2 separate regions of the Homo sapiens genome follow, and region 1 is linked to region 2. Evidence: fine-mapped expression QTL. Tissue or cell type: sigmoid colon. Region 2 holds a variant in brackets; the other region holds the start of a gene. All regions are shown on one strand. Distances are from middle to middle.

Evidence for each region. PIP is the estimated chance that this variant, and not a neighbour inherited with it, causes the effect.
Region 1: GNA14 starts here. The variant in region 2 is fine-mapped to the expression of GNA14 in sigmoid colon (GTEx, PIP 0.90).

The regions. Positions count from the first base shown.
Region 1 is chr9:77,645,144-77,653,661 of GRCh38, reverse strand. GNA14 (G protein subunit alpha 14) reads left to right here and starts at 5,340. Exons shown (of 7, transcript NM_004297.4): 1 at 5,340-5,992. The coding sequence starts at 5,869.
Region 2 is chr9:77,602,344-77,610,861 of GRCh38, reverse strand. The region is part of intron 1 of GNA14 (G protein subunit alpha 14); the gene reads left to right. Among named protein-coding and RNA genes, the nearest start is that of GNA14, 42 kb to the left of the region's middle. The variant C/T (reference allele first, on the strand shown) is at 4,759.

The sequences.
Region 1 (8,518 bases), 43 kb before region 2:
AAAAGAATAAATCAGAGGTAAAACTGTTTACTTAGATTTCACAAAGTATTCTTGGATGAGAAAAACAAAATATAGAGTTCGTGTAATGTAGCTTCGTTTTAAAACTAATGATGACAAACTTACTCTGTGTATATTTACACGTCTATGAAATTATTTACTCTTATATAGGATTATCAGAGCACAAAGAAGTGAAGAATACATCCTAGGTTATTAACATGGGATCATTCAAGAAGAGAGTGATGTAAATGGAGGGGGAAATTTAAGCAAAAAGGAAAAGAAAACAAGCCAAATAATCACCTCCAAACTTCACATTTTAAAGAGTTTGATTTCTTCTTGAGATTCCCCAACTTCAATGAAAAGTCACATTCAAAAACAAACAATATCAATTCCTGCCTACTCACAGTCATGTGTGTTTGAAGGCAGACTTCATTGTCTATCATCCCAGCGTTTTCGGTAACAGTTATATAATAAACAATTTCTGGTCTTCAGACAGAGAATATTGTAGAGCAACATGTTGACATGTTGATTGCCTTAAAAAAAATAGATGTTGAGTGCAAGCAACCACTAGCATCAGTATTACACATCCATCTAAATATCCATCAGTTGGGAACAATAGATACTGGGGACTCCAATAGTGGGGAGTGGGGGCAGGGGAAAGGGGTGAAAAACTACCTATTAGTTACTGTGTTCACTAATGGGGTGACAGGTTCAATTAAAGGCCAAACCTCAGCATCACAAAATATACCCATGTAACTAACGTGCACATGTACCCACTGAATCTAAAATTTTTTTAAAAACAATCAATCAATCAATCATTATCCATCATTGCTCCATCAACTCTCACCTACCAAACTAGAGCCAATGGGTGGGATGGGGAGTAGAAGTGACGGGGAAGAAGGATTGAAAACATTTTAGAGAACACATTGAACTCAAACTGAAAAAAAAAGAACATATTGGATTCAGAAAAATGAATTAGAAAATTTGGAATCATTTACACTAACACATTCAGGAGATGGACAAGCAGACTCCCACTGATGACTGAGCTGCTTAAGAGTTGATACACGTACAATTAAAACTAAAGTTTTTCTCACTGAACTCTGGGTATTTGGCTTAAAAATAAAATAAAACTAAAGATGTGGTGGCTTATGCCTGTAATCCCAGTACTTCAGGAGGCTGAGGCAGGGGGACTCTATGAGGCCAGGAGTTCAAGACCAGCCCGGGTAATATAGTGAGACCCTGCGTTTACAAAATATAAGAATAAAAAAATAGCTGGACATGGTGGCATGGGCTTGTAGTCCTAGCTATTTGGGAGGCTGAGGTGGGAGAACTGCTTGAGCCTAGGAGTTCAAGGCTGCAGTGAGCCATAATCACGCCATTGCACTCCAGCTTGAGTGACAGACACTCTGGCTCTTAAAAAAAAAAAAGTTAAAAAACATTTTATTAAATAATAATACATACAGCAACCTTGATATTGGCTCTTTATATTTTATTCTTAAGAAAAAATATTGGCCACACCCTAGGAATGTGTCACAACTGCAGTTTGAAAAATGCTGACATAGAGCAGCAAAGGTACATTAGTATTAGTGCTTTGTGAACTTCCTCAAGGTCCTATTTTTACTCTATGTTACTTGTTAAGTTCAGAGACAATACACTTGTGAAAGTGAACTGCATCTTTCCAGCCCTCTATTTGCACATTTCCTTGGCATTCTGAATTAGAAACAGGGCAGTCATTCTCTCTAAGGGGGCCAGTGGCAGGTGAGGGCAGCTCATATATACAAGTTCTTCCTAAGTTATACATTCATTTGTTTTGTACTTGCTTATTGGTTTTCACTGTCTTCCACCACAAGAACCTTCTTTTCTTGCATCTCAGACTAATTCTTCTTGGTTTCAGTATTTAAGGTTAGTCAACTGAAACTTGCTAATTTAGGAATACCAGGATAAGTAAGAAAAACTCTTTACCTGTGAGTAACTCATAGATTAGAAGAAACAGACGGGTGTAATAGAGTGAGATGTTGACAGTGTTCCAGCAGTAGGGAAAGATGGATGTAACTGACAAGGGCTGGAGTTGCTTCCTCAGAAGAGATGTAATTGAAAAAGAAATTACCTAATTTTGCCTAGGGTAAGAGATGGTATTCCTGGAAGATGGAACAGCATGCACCGAGGCATGGAGGCAGGAGGTAGGGAGAACAGAAAATTCCATTTGTCTAGAGTTCCAGGAGAGTGATGGAAGATGAGGCTGCTGTGCATATCTGTAGGCCTGGGGAGCGCCCTCAGGTGACTCTGTGCTCTCACTGTTCTCTGGAAGGAAGCAGGAAGGGGTAGGTTCAGATTTCAGGGTCTCAGTTTTACTTCTTTCTACTAGACTATAGCTCTACCGAAAGTCTGGAATTGTCTTATTACCTGAATCCTCACTGCCTGGTACAGGGGCTGGTATGGACCTAGTGGACATTCAGAGGGATATCAGACAATTAGCTCACCCCTGTAGCCCCACACTTGGTGGATATCTGAAACTCAGGTCCAGTCTGCGCTCTCGTCTTCAAGATGAATAAAATAAAATTGCAGCTTTTTTGAAATAACTTAGGAAAATAAATATTCTCTTTTATTGAGAACTCTTCTCAAAACTACCCCTTCCTGGAAAGATGTTTCCAATGAATTAATATCTTAAAATTATTATCATTTTACCTTCCAGATTCTACAGATAAGGAAAACAGAGATGAATAAAACATAGAAGTATAAAAATGATTGACTTGTGATATCCCAGTTTTCTGTTTCTTACCAGTGGCTGATGCTCAATAACAACTTTAGGTTTTTGATTATTTTTAAATAAATTTATTTTGGATAAGTGTGAATGTCATCAAAGAAATAATGCATGTTAGAGTTGGGTGATCCTTTTGAGCTTATTCTGGCTTATCCCTCTCATCTTATAGTTAAGGAAAGTGGAGCCTAAATAATTTTATGCAAGCTGCCCCAAATTTTTTCTTTCTTTTTTTTTTTTTTTGAGACGGAGTTTGGCTCTTGTTGCCCAGGCTGGAGTGCAATGGTGTGATCTTGGCTCACCACAACCTCTGCCTTCCGGATTCAAGCAATTCTCCTGCCTCAGCCTCCCGAGTAGCTGGGATTACAGGCATGTGCCACCACACCCAACTAATTTTGTATTTTTAGTAGAGATGGGGTTTCTCCATGTTGGTCAGGCTGGCTGGTCTCGAACTCCCAACCTCAGGTGATCTGCCCGCCTCGGCCTCCCAAAGTGCTGGGATTACAGACGTGAGCCACTGCACCCAGCCCAAATTTTCTAATGAACAATGAAAATCAACCAAACAGCCATGACTCACAGCAAGCTACCTTTTTGATGTGTGTCCCTTCAGTCTCTTAAAAATGTGTATGCGTATTCTTATACTAAAATCTTATCATACTCTTTATATTTTTGGATCTTGCCTTTTTCATTCAATATATTTTGAGGATTTTCTCCAAATTTATTCACATGTTTACTACTCGCATATCCACATATTTAATGGCTCCAAAACATCTCATTGTATGGATAAACCATGATTTAAGTGATCTCTTCCCTGTTGTTAGGTATTTAGGTTGTGAGTTTTTGTTGTTGTATTGGCAATAAAACCTTTGCATCAGTCATGAGGCTTCTTTCTAGTTATTTCTTAAGGGAGAAATTACTGGTTTGGCCGAAGGGGACGGACATGTTTAAGGCTTCAGATATATACTGCCAAGCTGACTAGCCCAGGAAAGTTGTACAGATTTGCCCTAATCAATATGTTTCATAACTGTTTTTGAAATCTTGCCAACTTTAAACCTAATAGGTCAGTATCAGTAATTCCCGTTAACGTAAGAGTTCAAATTTGCCCTAGTTTTAATCATTTAAAAATTTTTTATAATTTTTAAATGATAACAATTATGATGCAACCATGACTTTGAGAAGCCAAGAGATCTTATTCTCAAATTGTAAATGAATCCGTAAGAGCTAAGAGAGAAGAAACAGGCTATTAAATGGCCAAAGATCAAATCTGAAATGTCCAGGAGTTTTCCTGTAGGGGTCACTGTTACTGTCAATTTATGCCTGCAAGAAAACTAAAATAGTCACACATTAAAGCATGTATGCACATTTTTAATGTCTGATTCCTCTACATTTCTTAAACTGTAAAATAATAAGAACATGCAGCCAGATAGCATCGCGATACCAACTTCTTTATATAATGACACGTACCATTCCACTCAATGTGCTCCTCAGTTTGAATTTATAAAATATATGCTACTCAAATGAAAGGCACTTATGCCTGCTCTTAGTAGAGGAAGCGCTAGCTAATTGCCTAACGCCCCATTAGCATATGGCCTATACTGACTTGAGAAGGAAAGAACGTTCATTGCTGTGGCCAATAGGATCCCCTCTCCCCACCTTCCCTTTTCTGCATCAAAATCTACACAGACAAAAGTCAGATGTTGTAATATGCATTTTATCGTGTCACTTAAGTACTAAGAGGTGCTTTTAAAGTTTTTATTAATGCTGCTCAAACTTGACCCCGACGGTCCAGGATACAGGCCAAGGTGTCAGTGCGGACACAATCGCAAGGCGGCTGTTAGGCTTCAGGGCTGGGCAGGAAACTTGCCAGGTGCTACTAGGAACGTATCAGCCCTTTCTACAAAGCAGGTGTCTTTCCCATCATAAAATGCAAAGCAATCAGCCGTTCCCTTTCTCCCCAGCCCCCTCGTCCGGAGACCGAGAGGATATTTACCCTGGGCTCTTGCAGTTCTCTTATAACTGAACCCAGCGGCGGCTCCTTCTCCGAGCTCAGAGCCAGCAGGCTCAGGCCCAGCCACACTTTACAGGCAAATTGCCGAGCTGACCAAGGGCTTTGGCCAAGCCCGAGCTGGGCCGGGGCGTCCGGGAAGCGGAAGGAGCCAGTCTAGGAAATCCGGGTGTGCGTGGTGGTGAAGCTGGTGGGCAAGCTTCCACTTCAGGTCCGGGGCTTTGTGTCCCGCAACAGACGCTTGGCGCCGCTCCTCTTCCAGCCTGCTGCCGCCTTCTCCGAGCGAGTGAGTTGGCGAAACTCACTCACCTGTCGGAACCCGGTGCCTGGCGGCCAGACGCGCAGATTACAGCAAACCTTGGCCGGGACGCCCCAGCCAGGGAGGCAAGTGTGGGAGCTGCTCCTAGAGGTGCCAGCTCCCACCCCCAGCTCCGCGCCCCCTGCTCGTCCCCTTTCACTTCCAGGCGCCTTCGGCTTGGGGTGCCCAGAAGGGCAAGTCCAGCAGACGCCAGGGCTGCAGGTTCAAGATGCTCCGCCTCCTCCTGCCACTTAGAGCCACAAACGCTAGCGGGAACCTTTCCACTCAGTCTTAGTCTGCGGTCACTGCTGAGGTTTTCAGAACTTTCCAGGCAAAGGCCAGCCAGGTCCTTTGCCTCCAACCCACTCCGCGCCTACCTCCCGCCTGGGGACACCCCTAGGCCCAGGAGATCCTACTCTCCCCCGAGCACCGACGTTCCAACTCGTCTGCGCCCCCGACTGCTGTCCGGCTCCTGTGCCAAGGGGCGCGCGCATCTTCCCGGGGCCAGCAACGCTCCCAACTTCTCGACTCGCCCTCCTCCTCCCCAGAGCGAGAGTGGGGCGGGCTGAGCCCGGATCCGGGGTGCACTCGAGCGTTCCCAGCGCTCGGCATTCACCCCGCCTCAGAGCCGACTTTCGAAGGGGGATTGAGCCTCGGAGGTCCAGGCGTCTTACTCCAAAGCTCAAGTCGGCCCCCGTCTTTTCTTTCCACACCCCTGTGCCCGTCGCATGCTGGCCGGGTGAGCGGCCGGGCCGAGGATTCGGGTGCCCGGGGCCGCGTCGCCCCGTCGGGTACTGAGCTGAGCGCACCATGGCCGGCTGCTGCTGCCTGTCCGCGGAGGAGAAGGAGTCGCAGCGCATCAGCGCGGAGATCGAGCGACAGCTTCGTCGGGACAAGAAGGACGCGCGCCGTGAGCTTAAGCTGCTGCTGCTGGGTGAGTGGCTGCGTCTCCGACTCCAGTGAGCCGGGCGTTTTTCTTCCGAGCCCTCCCGGCCTCTCCACTGGCACCCGCGCGGCCCTGGAGCCCAGCGGGGTGCAGGGCGGCTTCGTCCTTCTCCCCCTCGGAGCTCACGGATGCCAGCAACTTGGGGCCTTAGGTGCCTGTTCTTTCCATCTCTGGCTGGGCGACTTGCAAAAGCAACACCTTCCCCTGCCCCAAAACAGGATAGGGACCTGTAACACTTAACCTCTTGACCGCTGTACCTTATGTGTTCCGGTGTGCCCCTCTCCTCAAAACCCCGTCCACTCCTCCGCCCGCAGCACACCCAGCTTGGGGTCTGTGGTGACCCACATCTTGGGTTCAGCGCTAGCTCTGACCCGTACGCTTTCAGTTCTAGATGAAGCATCTTGAGAATTTACCATGTGCCAGATCGTGCTAAGTTCTTAAGGGCATCACCACCTGGTGATGCGGGCAGGTGATATCGCTATTCTAGAGAATTAAAACATGGAGGCCTGGAGAACTGACCAACTTGCCCTGATTGAGAAAAGGCAAAGCCGATGCTAGGTCAGCTGTGGGGGTGAAGCCCATGCCGTTGCTGCTCCTCTGACCGTGAGCTCCTATGCCTGCCTCCCATGGGGGTCCCTCAGGCCTTTGTGTTTGCAGCGGACCCAAACCTCCCTTGCCCAGCTTGACTCAGTGTGTCCACGTCCTAGGATTCAGCTTGGCTGCCCTGGTGCCTCTGGCAGGTCTTCATCCAGCTCTTTTGGTGTCTCTGCAAAGGTCTGGGTAGGACATCCACTTTCAAACACAGAAAGAACACAGTTTAAGGTTTGCCCAAGTTATGCCATGAGGCAAGGATCCCATCTCAGACTTTCTAGAACGCTGTCAACACATTTGCTGTTTGAGGAATATTTTACCTTTTCTACCTTTCAGACCATGATATCAGCTGTCAATTTTTTTCTAGATAGCCACAAAGATTTCAACTTTTTTTCTTTCACCCCTTTTGAACAGGAATCTTCTCTTATACCATCTATTTATTCATCTTTATTCCTTGTATAGGAATCACCCTCCCAGAAAGCTTCAAGGAAAGAAAAAGTTGATCTAGTTAGTGTAATATAGAGAAGGCTCTCAGCCAGTATGGCCTTCAGACCTGGGCGGAAGAACCCCCTTATCCTTATCCCCTGGGTTTAAAGGGCCCAGTCTGGCCTTCTGGGGGTTGGGGGGGGGTGTGCCCCTCCCCACAGAGCTGGAAGTCTGTAGGTCCAAAGGGGCTTGCTACCCAGAGACCATGCTGCCCCCTCCCTCCCAAGACCTGGATGGAATGAATACCCAGCCCAAAGGGACCCATACCAGCTTCTAAGGCCTGAGCCCTAGAAAAGAAGGCAGACCTGATCCCTGGAGAGCTCACAAAGGGGCAGCTGTTTGCTGGGGCGTAAAAGTGCTTGGAAATGTGGGCTGGGTAGGAGTGGAGGGAGTCCCCGTGGGTGCCCAAGAGGCCCCCCTAGGAGAGAGGGAGCTTGGGTGGGGAAGGGAAGGGGCTCTGTTCATTGGCCAGGTCTGCTATTTCTGTGTCTGACCCATAACTTTGAAAAGTCTGAAAATTCTAAATTGTCCCTGGCCTTCTAGGCTGTTATAAAGCTACCTTTGTCAAGGGAGGAGGAATACGTGAGAATTTGCTAGCTTGATTAACACTAGAAAATAACTATGGGTGCGGGGCTTTGTACTTTTGCCCTGAACCCCACAAACCAGAGGGGTTTAGTTGCGTATGTAACTTTTTTCTTTATAAGGGCAGGCTGAACCCTATTTCATTTTGCAATGCTTTGATTTGTGTCAATGTATGAAGTACAGTGTCCAGAATATACCAGGAGCTTGACAAATGCTGGCTCTTTGTATGAAAAATTGTGTAGTCAGCTGAGCTGTACTGTATTGGTAATAAGCCTGTTTGATGTAAAATTCTCGCATTTACCCACAAACTAGGGGAGAAATGTTTGTAGGTAAATTGTTTGCTCTGAAAGTCACATTAATCAGGGTGACCCGAGGGTCTTCTTTATCTTCCCAGGCCATTGCTCCAACCCTCCTCCTACCACCTTGAGGCACTGTCTGACCTCTGGAAACTCCCATTTTCATCTTGCGGAGTTGTGACTAGCATATCCCCTTAGTGAAAACTTTCCTGTGAAAAATAGTTTCTAAACCACACAGAGCCGTTCAGAACTCCAAGGATGGACTTCAAAACCTCTGATTTATTTCAATCTGTAAAGTCCTGGGGCATAGCTCCATTTCTTCTCAAGGAAGAGCCAATGACTCAGAAGTGACAGGAATTAGGGGAGGATGTGCACCATTTTGTCTGAAGTCATGCAATTCGAGTGAAAAATTCACCCATCTCTCTAGTGGGTAGATTAGAGCATCCACTGCTCAGGTGCCTCAGTTAAAAACCTCACTTTGCAAATGGGAGTTTGGAATCCTTTTGTGGAGTATGGGATGACCCCCAAAGACACCATCTCTTTCACAATGAAGCATGCT
Region 2 (8,518 bases):
CATTTGTTAATCCTCTCTGTCCCATTATAAGCAAGATCCAGTCTTCTTACATCTTACAGATATTTGCAATAGGTGATTCTTGTTCTTCTCTGTTCTAGTCTGTAATATTATAACAGAAATATGTATCAGAAATAGCTTATTTGGTTGCTATCATTTGATCAAACTCATAGATATTGGCATTAATATATAAATGGCTTATTTAGCTTTAAGTTTGTGAGTGTAGAGACGCATATTATGGAATAAAAGTTTGTATCTCTCTTAAAATTTATATGTTAAAACTCTAATTCTCAATGTGATGATATTTGGAAGTGGGGCCTTTAGGAGGTAAATAGGTTAGATGAAGTCATGGAGATGAGGCCATGGTCCAATGGAATTAGTGCTCTTATAAAAAGAGACAACAGAGATTTTGCCTCTGTCTCTTCAACATTTAAGGTGTAGGGGCAGAAGGAACTTTCCACCCCATGAAGATTTAATAATTTGATTCTGTAAAACAAACTGACAATAGACAGATTAACAAGAGAAAAGGCAAACATATTTGTTAATGTGCAAGCACACAGGAGCCACACAAAATAGGAAACTCAAAAGGACCAGAAGGCTAAAGTTTAACTATTCTATAGGGGAGAGGGAGGTGGGGGATGTAGGTAATTTTAGAGGAAGAATACATGATTTTTAGGGGAAATAAATGAACCCAAAGAACAGACAACAGCTTAGGACAAAGTTCCTCTGGGAAGGTGAGGGGTGGAACTAAACTGTAAACAAAGTTTGTGTTATTATTCAGATAAAGCCTCTCAGGTAATAAAAGTTGTTTTGGAGCAGCCTCCAGAAGAATAGGTAGTAGCCAGTCTGGGTGTGGTGTTGACTTTTAATATCTTCTGCAGTGATTAATCTTCCCTGGTTGTTTGATGAGCTTCCTAAAGAGGTGGATCAAGACAATTGCAATCCTTCTGGAAAATCTTCCCTTGGTCAGATACATGAACCTCCCTGCATTTCAAAAAGGAAAGAGGTGGTGGCGGGCTGGATCAGGAGAAGATCAGAGAGAGACTTTGATTCTGAGGCTTTTAAATCACATTTGTTCAAAGCGCTCAGCATGCCAAAGGGCCATATTTTGAGGATTTTTTTCTGAACCCCAACAGAGGATACAGCAATAAGGCGTGATGGCTGCCTGAAAAATCAGGATGTGTTTTCTCCCCAGGAATCAAATCAACCAGCACCTTGATCTTGGACTTCTCAGCCTCCAAACTGTGGGAAATAAATTTCTATTGTCTAAGCCACCTAGACTGGTATTTTGTTAGGAGTATTTTACTTTGGTACCAAGGATGGTGTGCTGCCATAAGCAAATATCTAAAAATGTGGAAGTGGCTTTGAAACTGGATAATGGGTAGAGCATGGAAGAGTTTTGAGGTGTGTGCTAGAAATATGGATGTTAAAGGCAATTTTGGTGAGGGCTTAGAAAGAAAGGGGAGAGCTGGAGAGAAAACCACCATCTTTGTAGAGAATACTTAAGTAATCATGAATGCAATGCTGGTAGAAATATGGACATTAAAAGCGGTTCTGGTGAGGTCTCAGAAGGAAATGAGAAACAGGTTATTAGAAACTGGAGGAAACTGCTACTTTATTATAAAGTGACAGAGCACTAGATTGCATTGTGTTTGTGTTCCAGTGCAGGCAGTGAAGTTGATATTTAGCTGAGGAAATGTCTAAGCAAAGTATTGAAGGAGTACCTTGGTTCTTCCTGACTGCTTCTAGTAAAATGGAGAAAAGAGAAATGAATTTAAGAAGGAATTCCTATGCAAAAAGGAACCAGAACTTGAAGATTTGGCAAATTCTTAGGCTATCCATATTGCAAAGAATGAGAAAGATTATTCTGAAAAGAACACTAAGGGTGTGGCTGAACACTATTTGATAAGGAGATAGTATGGATGTGAATGAAGGATTTGATCAGCTATTTCAACAGAAGCCGGGAATGGGGATGGGATTATACCAAGAGAAATGTTGCCAGCTGGGACTAAAGGGGGCAGAAATAAACAGGAGTGACTGAAAGAAGGATGTTGGGCCATCGCCAAGGTGCTATGGGGAAATTAAAGTAACAAAATTAGAAAAAATTATTAAAAAGCAAAAAAAAAAAAAAACAGGATATTGGGCTTCGTACATTGTCAGGATAGGATGATGGGGCCATTTGGCTGTGAACATGCTTTATCTTTCAAGAAAAGGGAAGAATAATCCCAAAGGCAATTTGGAGAGCATCAGAGCTGCCACTCTTACCACAGGTCAAGGGGGCAGGGCTGGTTCCTCATCTGTTTCAAAGGGTTGGGTGGCCATTCTAGTTTTTGCTGGCCAGGATGCCTCTGCCCATGACTTCATTCTCCCTTAGAGAATCACATGGGGTGGGCCTTTCCAGAGAGCCAGGAGACTGGGCTCTCACAGGGAAGAACTCATTCCAGATTTAACTCCAAAGTCTCATCTAAATACCATCTAAATTAGGTATAGGTGATACTCAAGGTACGATTCATCCTGAAGCAAAATTCCTCTCCATCTGTGAACCTGTGAAATCAAATTATGCACATTCAAAATCCATTGATGATGCAGGCATAGGTTATATAGATATTCTCATTCTAAAAGGGAGAAATCAGAAAAAAGAGATGACATGTTCCAAGCAAGTCCAAAACCTAGCAAGGAAAATTCGATTAGATGCTAAGGCTTAAGAATAATCTTCTTTGGTTCAGTACTCTGCCTTCTGTCCCCATTAAGGTAGCAGCATCATGCCCTTGGCTCTGGGGCCGTCTTGCCCCCAAGGCTTTTTGTGAGAGCCCCACCACCTTTGCATTCAAGATGGACATGAATTTTGGGAGCCCAGAGGAAGAATATTATGGCCTGAATGTTCCCCCTACCCCAAATTCAGATGTTTTGAAGCCTTAACCCTCAATGTAATGTTAGGAGATGGGGCCTTTAGGAAGTAATTAGGGTTAAGTGAGGTCAGGAGGGTGCGGTCCCAGTCCAATGAGATTAGCACCCTTATGAGAAAAGACACTAGAGTTTTTTTTTCTCTCTCTCCACCATGTGAGGACACAGTAAGAAGGCCAGTGCCTGCAAGCCAGGAATCAGGCCCTAACCAGGAACTAAATTGTTGGCGAAAATCTTGATCTTGGACTTACTAGCCTTCAGAACTGTGAGAAATAAATTTCTGTTGTTAAGCCACCCAGCCCTAAGAAACAAATACAGAGCAGCAAGTAGGTATGAAAAGACATTCAGCACTTAAAGAAGTTTGCAAAGTTCTTAGAGTTGGTTTCCTTGGAAACCTTGTTGGTATTACAGCCTTTCTTTATTGCACCGATGTTCAAGTGTGTGAGATGCAGATGAAGGTTATCTGCAGAGGACACATATAATGTTAGACCTAGCATGCCCTCCTTGAGAACCTTACTACAGCCACTCCAACTCCCATACACACTTGAATCTTCTGACTCAAACAGTGGTTCCATCAAGCCTCTCTTCCTGTGTACTGACTTATGGTGGCTTCTTCTTTTAGGATTCATCAGCAATCACTTATTCTGATTTCTTACATATGCCTTCTCAGCATGTCACTTGGCATCTCTCGTCTGTGTGAGCCAGTGATTAACTTGAAATTCTCTTACTCTAATTCTGTGGTAACTGTTCTATTTATTATTACAGACTGTTGAAGCTCCCAGAAAATCTCCAATCATTTTGTGCAAATCCATTATTTTACAGATAAGAAGAGAAAAATGTCTTAATCAGCTTGGGCTGCTGTAACAGAATACCGTAGACTGGGTGGCTTAAATAACAAGCGTTTATTTCTCATAGTTTCAGAGGCTGGGAAGTCTGAGATCAGAGTGCCACCATATTCGGGTTCTGGTGAGGGCCCTCTCCCTGGCTTGCATTGCCTGCATTTTACTGTGTCCCCACTTGGCAGAGAGAAATTCTGGTGTCTCTTCCTGTTCTTATAATAAGATAAATCCCAACCTGGCGTCTGCATCCTCATGACCTCATCTAAACCTAATTACCTCCCAAAGGCCTCACCATCTTATATCATTGCACTATGGGTTAGGGTTTCAACACATGACCTTTGGGAGGGACATAAACATTCCGCTCATAACAGAGAGCTTAAGGAGGTTGAAGATGTTGAGGCTTACACCTTTTTTTCCTTTCACAACAATCCACAAAACTGCTTCCCCAGGAACCCCAAATAAGGAAACCCTTTACAACCCATTTGGTGGCAGCATTCTGAAAGAATTCCCTTCTGAGCCTTTGATAAGTTGCACTGAGCATTACCAGTATGCATGAGACATAGCATCTAAACACAGATTTCAGTTTTTATATTCCTTTTACTTCTTTTAGTGATAATGGCCATTCACTTCCTGAAAAGAGAGGGCTATGAATATTAAGAAGAATCCAAGAGGGTGAGATTCTGGTTTTGTATAATCATAGGAAAATATTCATTAACTAATTCCAAAAATAACAACCAACTTAATGAGTTTGTAGGGAGAAATGTTGCTTGACTTTAAGGAGATTTGGAAATACTTACACTTAAAAGATGAGAAAGAAGGAGTAAGAATGAGGCTTCTTTTCCTAGTAACTGGAAACATAACCTTCTTAGAATTTATTTTTTGGTAGGAGATGGCTTTTTTCTTTCCCTTTTGGAAAACAATAACTTTTAATTGCTGATAATTTCTCCTGGGTCAAGGCTTTAAAAGGACAGAATAGTTTTCTTCCTTCTGCTAGAGTAATAAAGCACTTAAAATGTTT[C/T]TGTTTCATTTCACGGCTGCCCACTGAAGAATCTAGTCCATCTTGTTCTGGTAAACATTTCCTGAACCACTTCATTGTTTGAGTTTTTTCCCTCCATTAACAGGAAAGGGAGATATCTCTCAACAGAATATATGAAACTTATCAGGAATTACCCTCTGCCAATGGATAGTCTCTTACCTAGTTTTGTTTTGGAGTGGAAAAATAATGCTGCTTATAATAGGATCTTAGAACTCGAAAGGAATTTAGAAATCATAGAATTCAACTTCATAATTTCAAGCTGAGGTAACTGAGACTAAGGGGCGAAACTTGCTAACTAGAAAAGATTCAGTACTAGAACTAAAGTTCTTTGGCTTTCAGCTCAGTGCTGTTTCTGGCCTATAATACTGGTCTCCTTTCTAGTTGGATAGGTCTTTGTCGGCTATATTTCTCTTTCTGTGCCTGGCTTATTTCACTTAACATAAGGTCCTCCTGGCTCATCCATGTTGTCACAGATGACAGGATTTCCTTCTTTTTAAAGACTGAGTAGTATTTCACTGTGTTAATGAACCACATTTTCTTTATCCTTTCACATGAAAGTCTTATGACCTGGTTTAGAGGAGGGTCAGGAAATCTTTCCTGGGTTGTATGACCTGTTTGGGGGAGAAAAGTGGGAGGAAGGTGAGAGTGACCTTCCTGCCTCTGTCATTTTCTCAAATGCCAATGTGCCATATTGTAGGATAGCACATCCTGAACCCCATCACCGGGGTGGCTGGGATGTCATCTCTGTATAGAAATCTTATTCCAAGCACTTACGTGTTGAAGTAAAGAGCCCATGTTTGCATCTTTCCACCCAAGGATTGGTCATCTCTGGTCAAGACCTGAGGTCCAGGATGAGCTCTTTCCCACAGAAACTTTGACAAATGTGTGGACAATAAAGAAGCACTGCTTCCCTCATTCACCATAGCTCAGCTGGATTTATAGATTTAAATCTTTTAACGAAAAAGTTCATGTTGAGGTATTTAGATACTTTTTAGAGGGTTAAATACCAAGTTACAGTGACATTTAAACCGAGTGTCTAGAACATGAAGGCAAAGAGTCTGCTATTCGGAGGTAAATTTTATCAGTGTTTGAAAGGTGAAGCATTTGCTCATGAAATGTTGAATGAATTTCTGTGACATGGCACGAGGGTGGTAAGAAAAAGTGGAAACTCAAAGATGTATTTTTGCTTCATCCACCAGAGGACTGGAATGTTGGGGGATGCTGAATCAGTGAGCAAAGCAGAAAGAATGATAGAATCATTGGTAGCATCTTCGGGGTTTACGTAGTGCTTTTGTCTAGTTTGGTCCTTGCAACAACCCCATAGGTGGTCAGGTATTGTTTCTGTTCTACATGTGCAGAAACCCAGATACATTGAGCCAATGGTGGAGCCATGACTTGATCTCAGGCCTCTGGGCTCTGGATTATGTGATTTTGCTTCCATGTCATTCTGCTTCTTTGGTAAGGACTGAAAGGTGGATGGTCAGGATTACCAGGTGCTTAGCAATGAGAAGCCAGCCAGAGGAATTTATCTTACTGTGTTTTCAGACAGTATCCATGGAAATGTGGACTTGAGTGATGAGCCTGTCCATTGCTCATGTGGCCAGGTTCACTTAGAGGATTAGTGACAGCATGTGTAAGGAACGTGACCAACACTGAATCCCACCCTACTCTGCTGACTTCAGACTTCCACTTAGGGCTTTACCAAAGTGAGAGAGACTAAACTTCAGCCTTTGATGCTTGACATTTTTATAGGTTCTGGAAACCTCTATCTCTACCGGATAGTTGATTTTCTCTAAATACAAAGCACAGGACTGTCAGTCTGTGAGACCTTGTCTTATTTGGCTGTGGTTTTGGGTGTAGCAGAACAGAGCATTGCAAATTTGTTGACTGAAGTGTTTTTAGCAGCAGAGAAGGATGAAAGAGGAACACCTGGGCAGGAGCTCAAGCAATGGCATCTCAGCCGAAATAGCTCTGAAGTCTTATATTTACAAAAATTTGTGGGAATTTTACATTATGCTGTAAAATATTTATTACCATATTAAAAGTAATGTTCCAGATTAATTGCAATGAGTGATAGTGACTCTCTAGACTTTTCTCAGAGGTGTTTTTTTTTTTTTTTTTTTTTTTTTGTTTTTTTTTTTTGAGATGGAGTCTTACTCTGTCTCCCAGGCTGGAGTGCAGTGGTGCAATCTTGGCTCACTGCAAGCTCCACCTCCCAGGTTCACACCATTCTCCCGCCTCAGCCTCCCGCCACCACGCCTGGCTAATTATTTTTTGTATTTTTAGTGGAGACGGGGTTTCACCATGTTAGCCAGGATAGTCTCAATCTCCTGACCTCGTGATCTGCCCTCCTCGGCCTCCCAAAGTGCTGGGATTACAGGCGTGAGCCACTGTGCCCGGCCTCTCAGAGGTTTTGACTCCCGTGACACATTGCTGGCTGCCCTTGGATTCCTCTTCTCAGTTTAAGAATTTCTGATTCTTAACTCGTCTCAGTTTAAGAATGCTCTTCCTAAACTCACTTGATTTTCATTCCATTTCCTCTTTCAGGAGAGCTACCTACTCCTGCAAATGATGTCTCTTTCTATGTAGAGTAGAAAGAATAGAATTTCTATTGTTACACAAATATGCATTGTTTTCCCAATATGAAAATACTGGAACTCTTCATTCCTAAAACATGTAAGGTCAGAGAGCTTTATTCTAAAGCTTTATTCAAAGTTCCAGGCTTACCCTGGAACTTGAGCTCCTCCTGACCCTTGATGCCAGATAAAATGTGTGGTTGGGGGGTTTGCATCAGTGGCTCTTAGGCATTTACAGCCATCAGACCAAACATTTCACACACAAAAGCTATCACAATGGCTAAGAGAAAGGGCATTGGTTTTGGAACAGTAGGAGATGATCTCTGGTTTTAATATAAACATAATTGTTCATGAAAGAAGAATATGAGTACACCCATGCAGCAGTCATCATTTTGAGCCAGCCAACTGTGTGAAGAGCTTTGTGGGCCAAACTTTGGGAGCCACTAATTTGTTGGAAGCCTGGTACAACCAGATGTTTGCCCTACTTTAATGAAGACAAAAAAGAGTTGGCAGCAAGGAAATGTAATCTAGGGCATTTATGAGTTGGGTGGCAGATTAAATGTGTACAGTACAGGCTACATACTTTGTGGGGCCAGTGCAAAATGAAAATGTAGGGTCCTTGGGCAAAAGTTATAGAGAATTTCAAGACAGTAACAGCAGAGCATTAAACAAAGCACAGGGCCTTTCAAAGCATGAAGCCCTGTGCAATTGCACAGATCACATGCCCATGAGGCCGGCCCTGATAAAGTTTCTTAAATTGGGAAAGTTGTGGGTGTAGTTTGAGTGTGAAGGAAAAAAAAAACAAAACCATTAATACAAAGGTAATAAATGAGAAAAAAGGAAAGGCGAATCCCATGAGGAACAAGGTTGCTTTGTAAGTGAAGTGTGGAAAAGCCATGGTCTATGCTGGAGAGGAGGAGAGAGGAGAATGCTACAGGCTGGAGAGAATGACCCAGAGATCTGATGTTACAAACCAGGTCTCTCCCAGGGGTGGGTCGGGAGGGCTAGTGGGTAATATTCTAGTTGACAGAATAACATCCATATAAGGCACAAAATTGATTGGTTAAATAATTGTAGGATTCTGTTTTACACCGTTCATTGAAACCCATTGGTAGTTGCATTTGCTATGCGGTCAGAAAATGGTGAACAAGTTATTACTATTTGTT